2 separate regions of the Homo sapiens genome follow, and region 2 is linked to region 1. The links come from fine-mapping of genetic effects on gene expression. A gene starts in region 1. The other region holds a variant in brackets. All regions are shown on one strand. Distances are from middle to middle.

Region 1 (4,208 bases):
GAGGTCAGGAGTTGGAGACCAGGTGGCTAATATGGTGAAACCTGTCTCTACCAAAAATATAAAATTGTTATATTTTATATAATACAGCTGGGCGTGGTAGTGCATACCTGTAATCTCAGCTATTTGGGAGGTGGAAACAGGAGAATCACCTGAGCCCGGGAGTTGGAGGTTGCAGTGAGCCTAGAATTGCGCCACTGCACTTTAGCCTGGGCAACAGAGCAAGACTCCATCTCCAAAAAAAAAAAAAAAAAAGAAAAAAAAAAGATTTGGAGGGGACAGACATCTTAACTATATCAGGGATCTTGGCAAGACACTCAGGTTGGATAATTGTCTAAGTAGACCAGGGGTTCTCAGCTAGGAGCCATGTTGCCTCCTAGAGGACACGGGCAATGTGTAGAGACATTTTGGGTTGTCACAACTTGGGGTTGGGGGAGGGTGCTACTGCCATCTGGTGGGTGGAGGCCAAGGATGCTGCTCAACACTCTACAGTGCACAGGATGGGCCCCCACAACAAAGAGTGGTCCGGCTCAAAATGTGTGGTGGCCCACGCCTGTAGTCCCAGCTGTTTGGGAGACTGAAGTGGAAGGATCACTTGTGCCTGGGAGGGTGAGGCTGCAGTGAGCCAGAAGCATGCCACTGCACTCCAGCGTGGGCGACAGAGTGAGACTCTGTCTCAAAAAATATACATACTGCCCAGTAAAATGTTTAAAAAGTACCTTGTGTCCCAAACCAAATATAACTGTGAGGCCTTTTGGGCCCTTGGGCCTCCAGTTTACAACTGGTTGACAGTGGTCTCTGGAATTGTTCCATAAGGTAGGAGCCATATGTGGCTTAAATTTTGATTATGGGAAATTAGTATTTTTTGAGACAGTCTCCCTCTGTTGCCCAGGCTGCAGTATAGTGGCACGATCTTGGCACACTGCAACCTCCACCTCCTGGGTTCAAGCGATTCTCCTGCCTCAGCCTCCCAAGTAGCTGGGACTGTAGGGGAGCACCACTACGGCCGGCTAATTTTTGTACTTTTAGTAGAGAAGGAGTTTCACCATGTTGGCCAGGCTGGTCTCGAACTCCTGACCTCAGGTGATCCGCCCGCCTTGGCCTCCGAAAGTGCTGGGGTTACAGGTGTGAGCCACCGTGCTGATTATGGGAAATGTAATACAATTTAAAATTCAGGTCCTCTGATACACCAGCCACATTTCAAGAGTGTAAGAGTCCCACGTGGCTAGTGACTGTCATAGAACTTTCCACCATTGCAGAAAGTTCTGATGGACAGTGCTCTAGGATGTAGCTGTGGCACCCCAGGGTCTTGGGGCTCGCTGTGACAGTTACTCCTCTTCTGTCCCCCACTCTCAGCTGCACCTGCAGATGCTGCTGCTGCCGCCCTCCTGCGAGGCCGTGGCGCCACGTGGCTGGAGGAGGAGCTGCAGCTGCCCCGAGTGCTGCCGCGTGTGCAGCTCTCCAGTGCGGCTGCAGCGCCACCGCGCGTTGCTTTCGACGCCGGAGTCCTTCGCATGCGCAGCCAGCGCCCGGGCCTCAAGTGCCCCAGGACCTGGCGCAGCCCGCGAGCCCGCATCAGGCTTCCAGTGGGCCCCGTGGGCAGTGCCAGCCTTTCCCACCTCCGCATCTGGCAAAGCCTGGCCTTCGCTGCGCTTCGGTGTCGCCACATGCCTTCTGGAAATATCACACCTCCCCACCTGCGCATGCAGCCGTCTGGCCCTCTGTGGGCCTCGGTTCCCGCATGTGCCCCGTGGAAAGAACATACCTTCCCCAACTATCTGGCAGCGTCTGGCCTTCTCCGGGCCTCGGCCTCCCCATTTGCTGGGTGGAGAATCACGGCCCGGCCACATCGGAGCCAATGGCTGGTCTCTGGACCTCGGTCTCCACATTTGCTCAGCCGGCAGGAACATCCCTTCTCCCGCCCTCTACCTCGGTGGGTGGCCACGGCCGAGCAGGCAGCGACGGCCCAGTGGAAAGAGGACAAACCCTTGTGGGCCTTAGGGCGAAGACGTAACTTTGCTTAGTCTCGGTTTATTGGCCGATCTCTTGTCAAGCGGCGGAATCGTTCCGTTCGGGAGGTGGGAGGGGAGCGGGGCCGCCGGGGGCGGGCGTCTTCAGTGGACCCCACGCCTCCGGTCCCCTCCCCGCAGGGCGCTCCGCAGAGGCGAGGGGTGGGAGCGCCGGCTCCAGGCGGCGGAACCTCCGCACTGGGCTCGCGCGCTTCCGGCCGGCGCCTTTTCCCAGGGACTCCGCCAACCCCTCGCACCCCCGCGCCCCCAGTCCCCGCGTCCCCGGCGCCGCCGGCCCGGAGCTGCCCGGAAGTCTCGGTTCCGCCGCCGGCGCTCGCCAGGGGAAGCCCGGGGCCGCCCGGGACCTCGGCCCGTTCCTCCGGACCCGAGAGGCCGCCGCACGGGGTACGGGGGCCGGGATGGAGGGAGGAGCCTGGCCCTGGGACGACGCCGGGGCCAGGCAGGCTGGGGGAGTGCGCTGGAGCCACCCGGGATGGGGGTGGGGGTCGGGAGCGGCAGGATCGGGCGGAGGGACGGGAGGGGAAGTCGAGGCGCCAGGGCTCCTTGGGGAAGTGAAGGCAATAGGAGGGGCCCCAGGGCCAGGGGACAGGCGGTGTGTAGCGGGATGGGGGCGAAAACGCCCGGGCGCTGGGGTTCCCATAAACAAGGGGAGCAGAGCAAAAGAACGGGCGGGGGACCACGCTGTGTGTAACAGGGAGAGGGATGGGGCTCCTGGAAGAGGTGAACACGAGGAGAAAGAGAGATGCCAGACGTACACAGAAAGGAGGGGAAAGTGGGCTTGGGAGAGGTGCTGTGGGAAGCGGAGTCCCGGAGCCTGGTGTGCATAACGGGGTTTGGGAGAAGGCCCCTGATGGGTACAGAAAGAAGTAACGATGTCACCGCCATATATGGGGGGCGAGAGAAAAGGGGGCCTTTGGGGAGAATGTAGCAGGTAGCCAGGTTGGGGGGGCGGGGTATACAGAAGGAAGGCATTTGAGCCATTTTGGGGTGTATAGATGTAGTAAGACGATGGGTTCCGTAGTGGGGAGAGGTGACTAGACTTCGAGGTGCTAAGTGTAGGAACAGGATGGAAAAGCCCTAGTGAAATGTGGGGAATTGGGTTAGTGGGGCTCTGGGGAGGTACCTAGAGAGGAAGTGAGGGAGGCCACGGAATATGAAGATGGGGAGGCCCTGCGGCATGTAGTGGGGACGGAGGGCCAGGAGGCCGATACGGGGGCCGGTGGGGGGGTAGGGGGCGGCAAAGGGAGGGGAAGTAAACTGAACTGGGGCTGGGCAACAGGAAAAAAGAAGAAACCACAGATTAGAGAAATCTCGGCGGTCAGGAGGCCCGGGGTCTAAGATGTAAAGAGGTAAACAGATTTAGGGATTGATTGTCTGCTGGGGTGGGTTGAGAGGAGAAAAGGGAAGAAAAGTCGGGGGACTACGTCCTCAGACCTGACCTGAGTGGTGAGAGGTGGACCCAGGAGGAGTGGCAGGTGGTGGCGGGGTTTTGCAGAGCTCAGTTGGAGGCCCTCTCCGAGGCAGCTTGATGGAACGTGGGAGAGCCGGGCTGGAGTCACAGTTTTTATTTTGCTAGGGAGGTAGTCAGTGGCGCACAAAGGGTAACAAGCAGTGATAGTGGGGATGCTTTCCATTTTAGGAAACTTTTCCTAAAAGGAAGTGGCAATTTTAACTAATCTCCCCTCCGCCGCTCCCAGCTGCCGCTCCAGATGCTGCTGCTGCCGCCGCGGCCACCCCACCCTCGGTCCTCCTCTCCGGAGGCCATGGACCCACCGCCCCCCAAGGCTCCCCCTTTCCCCAAGGCGGAAGGCCCCTCCTCCACTCCTTCCTCGGCGGCGGGGCCCCGACCCCCGCGGCTGGGCCGCCACCTCCTCATCGACGCCAATGGGGTCCCCTACACATACACGGTGCAGCTGGAGGAGGAGCCCCGGGGCCCGCCCCAGCGCGAGGCGCCCCCAGGAGAGCCCGGCCCTCGCAAGGGCTACAGCTGCCCGGAGTGCGCCCGTGTCTTTGCCAGCCCTCTGCGGCTGCAGAGCCACCGCGTGTCGCACTCGGACCTCAAGCCCTTCACGTGCGGCGCCTGCGGCAAGGCCTTCAAGCGCTCCAGCCACCTGTCGCGGCATCGCGCCACGCACCGCGCCCGCGCCGGGCCGCCGCACACCTGCCCGCTCTGCCCACGCC
Region 2 (4,492 bases), 60 kb after region 1:
GAAGGCACTTGAGGGAACCTTCCTGGAGCCCGTAGGAGCTTCATCCGAGCTCCTGGGTCACCCCGCCCACCAGAGTCCAGGCCCACCAGAGTCCCCTGCCACCTGTGCTCACCCTAGCCTTACCCCTCGCTCTACTCCCGCCCTCGCCCTATCCTCGCTCCTCGCCCTACGCTTGCCCCTCGCTCTGGAGCTGCGATGCCAGCCTCAGGGCTTTCAGTCCTGCCTTGATCTTTTTTTATACTGAAACTCAATTTTACACACACAAACCCACTCCCAGCCAGCCTCTGCCTTTTGCCTTTTCCTCATGTTCTCATTGAATAGGAAGAAATGCCCTTTTTTTTCCCCCCTAGAAGGAGTCTTGCTCTGTTGCCAGGCTGGAGTGCAGTGGCACGATCTCGGCTCACCGCAACCTCCACCTCCCGGGTTCAAGCGATTCTCCTGCCTCAGCCTCTCGAGTAGCTGGGATTACAGGTGCCCACCACCACGCCCAGCTAATTTTTTTTTGTATTTTTAGTACAGACGGGGTTTCACCATGTTAGGATGGTCTCGATCTCCTGACCTCGTGATCCGCCTGCCTCGGCCTCCCAAAGTGCTGGGATTACAGGCGTGAGCCACTGTAGCGGCCCCCACCCCATTTCATTTTTTATTTTTTTATTATACTTTAAGTTCTAGGGTACCTATGCACAACGCGCAGGTTTGTTACATATATATACATGTGCCATGTTGGTGTGCTGCACGCATTAACTCGTCATTTACATTAGGTATATCTCCTAATGCCTTCCCTCCCGCCTCCCCCAGGCCCTTAGTTTGTGCTGCTCTGCGTTGGTTTTCTGCGTGTGCTAAAAGGGGAGGGAGAGTTTCTGTGCCCATTCCCAGGCACCTTCTTGCAGCCGCAGGCATCTCCCCCACACGTGCTTCTAGCTTCCCGGGTGTGGCGTGAGCCATTGCGTCCGGCCAGAAATGTTTTATTTCTTGAGAACTTGTCTGTCTCTGTGATGACTGTGGGTTGTCCAGCTCATCCCTCAAGCGCCATCCTGCCAGGCCCTTCACTGTGGTGAGAAACCGGCCTACTCACATCACAGGTGCCCCTGGAGTTTCTCAAACTGCAGCCCAAGGATTGGCTGCTTGCTTTTGTAAAAAAAAATGTTTTATTAGAGTGCAGCCACGGCTGCTTCTGCACTACAGTGGCAATGGTGACATTGAGTGTGGCAGAGACCGAGTGTCCCTTGAGCCTAAAATATTTACTATCTGGCTCTTCAACAAAAAGTGTGCTGACCCCCGGTGATTGCTTGTATGTGGCAGGGGTCTAAGGCCTGCCTGCACGTCCTGGGACAGCCCACGCTTCCACAGGGTTCCAGCATGCTTTCCGCCGAGAAATCGCTCCCTTTGCTGTTTGTTTTGTATTGAATGTTTCTTCATGCTTTTGTTTTACTTTCAGGGATAATTATATAATGTTATGTTTCATCCACATTATTTTAGTATGGATATTTATAATTTCCTAAAGCACTATTTTTTTTTTTTGAGACAGAGTCT[T/C]GCTCTGTCGCCCAGGCTGGAGTGCAGTGGCTCGATCTCTGCTCACTGCAAGCTCCGCCTCCTGTGTTCACGCCATTCTCCTGCCTCAGCCTCCCAAGTAGCTGGGACTACAGATGCCCACCACCATGCCCAGCTAATTTTTTTGTATTTTTTTAGTAGAGACGGGGTTTCACTGTGTTAGCCAGGATGGTCACGATCTCCTGACCTCGTGATCTGCCCACCTCGGCCTTCCAAAGTGTTGGGATTACAGGCTTGAGCCACTGTGCCCGGCCCATAAAGCACTATTTAATGACTGCTCCATAAATACAAACTTCCTTTCCTTATTATTATTATTTATTTTTTTTTTGAGATGGAGTCTTGCTCTCGTCCCCCAGGCTGGAGTGCAGTGGCGCGATCTCGGCTCACTGCAACCTCCGCCTCCCGGGTTCAAGCGATTCTCCTGACTTGGGACTACAGGTGCGTGCGACCACAGCCAACTCATTTTTCTGTTTTTAGCAGAGACAGGGTTTCACCATATTGGCCAGGCTGGTCGAACTCCTGACCTTGTGATCCACCCGCCTCGGCCTCCCAAAGTGCTGGGATTACAGGCGTGAGCCACGGCACCCGGCCCATAATTACAAACTTTCTGAGGGACATCTTGAAGCACACAAAACTATAGACAATATTATCATAACCACCCCTGCAAATGCCTCACTCGTGTTCAGCCATCATTTACATTTGAACCACTCCTGTTTCACCTACAGCCTCCTCATGGCCCCTCCCCTGGAGCACTTAAAAATGGTAATGACATGCTCTCTAGTAATCGTTGTGTGTTACTGTCAAAAGGTATAACTCATGCATTGATGGGGGTAACCCCTACAGCAGTTAACCCTGCGTGCTCAGAGGGGAATGAAAGGTAGCTCAGAGGCTCGGGAGGTGAGGTTGCAAAATGGCTTGTGTTGTGGGGAATGTTCTCATCCACCCAAATCAAGCATCACTACATCCATCCGCAGGGGAGGCAAGCTTAGGGCATCACGTCCAGGAGTGGCCAGGTCCCGATGTCACGGGGAGCCGGGCTGGGACAAGCTCCAGACGGCCAGGGTGGTGTGGGTTTGCAGTGGGAGGGCTGGCGCGGGGGCCCTGAGGGCTCCCTGGTTCCCATCTTATCAAGATGCTGGACTCGGTGCTTGAAACATGTCCTGACAGCCACATGAAAAGGGTTAGAAATGATACTGTTTCGCCTGGGTGCTGTGGCTCATGCTTGTAATCCTAGCACTTTGGGAGGCCGAGGCGGGCGGATCACGAGGTCAGGAGTTCGAGACCAGCCTGGCCAACATGGCGAAACCCCGTCTCTACTAAAAATACAAAAATTAGCCTAGTGTGGTGGCGGGCACCTGTAATCCCAGCTACTTAGGAGGCTGAGGCAGGAGAATCGCTTGAACCCAGGAGGCGGAGGTTGTAGTGAGCCGAGATTGCACTACTGCACTCCAGCCTGGGTGACAGAGTGAGACCCTGTCTCCAAAAAAAAAAAAAAAATGATACTGTTTCCTGTATTTTTTTCTCTTAGTATCTTAAGAAATACATGATTTGAACAAGGACCTTGTGTCTCCTCTCCCCTTTCCCGGACTATTCTGACCCCAGCAGTTCTCAGAAGGAGCTGACATTAATGAGAACTTCTCCCTGTTAGACCCTTAAAATACTGAGCTTTCGGGACCCTGCCTGGCTTGTTCCTGTAAAACGGTCTTGTCTGTGGTAAATACTAAGGTTTTTGGTCTCACAGCCGAGGAAATCAAGGATGTGGATGCACACAGAGTGAGATTTGGAGCAGGAGTTTAATAGGCAAAAGGAAGAAACAGCTCTGTCACAGAGACGGGTCCCGAACGGGTTGTGAAGTTGTAGAAGAAATGTCAGGGGTTTTATAGATGGGCTAGTGAGGAGGGGTGTCTTTTCTTCCTAGGGCCTGAAGAACCAGTTAGGACCAGGTGTGCTGTCTGCATCGAGCAGAGTCTCTAGCAGCCCCCACCCCATTCTTTTTTTTTTTTTTTTTTTTGAGATGGAGTCTCGCTCTGTCGCCCAGGCTGGAGTGCAGTGGTGTCATCTTGGCTCACTGCAACCTCCGCCTCCCAGGTTCAAGCAATTCTCGTGCCTCAGCCTCCCGCGTAGTCGGGATTACAGGTGCATGCAGCCATGCCCGGCTAATTTTGTATTTTTAGTAGAGACAAGGTTTCACCATGTTGGTCAGGCTGGTCTCCAACTCCTGACCTCAAGTGATCCGCCTGCCTCGGCCTCCCAAAGTAGTGGGATTGCAGGCGTGAGCCACCGCGCCGGGCCCCCACCCCATTCTTTGATCCTGCAGGCAGGCCCTTCGTTTGTGCTGCTCTGCGCTGCTGCTTATCTGTGTGTGCTAAAAGGGGAGGGAGTGTTTCTGTGCCCATTCCCAGGCACCTTCGTGCAGCTGCAGGCATCTCCCCCACGCGCTTCCAGCTTCCCTTAGTGTGCCTAAAGAAAGGGAAAGGAATGTGCTTTAGGCCCACTGTTTTCACTGGGGCCCATCTATGTATGTGGCTTGGTGATTACCCAGGAACCTCCCAAGTCTGTGCCCGAGTTGCTTATCTGTGTTTTACAGCCTGAAAGATCAGGCTGCTCTTTGTTAGGAGAAGTGATTTCTTTGAACTGCGTGGTGTGGTGAGAAAGGGAGCAATTTCTAAGCTGCTTTTTGTTAGGAAGTTTTTTGCTGGGGACTCTCTTCGCCCTATCTACCTAAATGATTTCTGTTTCTTACATCAATTGGGTATTGATTTCAGGTAGAATGGGTGAATGCATTTATTCGTTCATCTAAGCCGCATTTACTCCTTTCTTTTCTTTCACTGTTGTTTTTTTTTTGAGACGGAGTCTTGCACTGTCACCCAGGCTGGAGTGCAGTGGTGCGATCTCGGCTCACTGCAAGCTCCACCTCCCGGGTTCATGCCATTCTCCTGCC

The links. PIP is the estimated chance that this variant, and not a neighbour inherited with it, causes the effect. A credible set is the group of variants that fine-mapping cannot tell apart.
Region 2: its variant is the best candidate, but not a certain one, in a credible set for the expression of ZNF580 in whole blood (INTERVAL, PIP 0.51).

What each region holds. Positions count from the first base shown.
Region 1 is chr19:55,638,773-55,642,980 of GRCh38, forward strand. It overlaps ZNF580 (zinc finger protein 580), which reads left to right and starts at 2,230. Exons shown (of 2, transcript NM_207115.2): 1 at 2,230-2,411; 2 at 3,725-4,208. The coding sequence starts at 3,737. LOC107983998 (a long non-coding RNA gene) reads left to right here. Exons shown (of 2, transcript NR_171683.1): 2 at 1,354-2,027. It also overlaps a transcript of ZNF581 not described here. RefSeq lists silencers at 2,080-2,599, 3,790-4,208, 3,791-4,085.
Region 2 is chr19:55,698,418-55,702,909 of GRCh38, forward strand. It overlaps EPN1 (epsin 1), which reads left to right. Exons shown (of 11, transcript NM_001130072.2): 11 at 1-4,492. Among named protein-coding and RNA genes, the nearest start is that of EPN1, 25 kb to the left of the region's middle. RefSeq lists an enhancer at 3,337-4,221 and a silencer at 3,726-4,020. The variant T/C (reference allele first, on the strand shown) is at 1,534.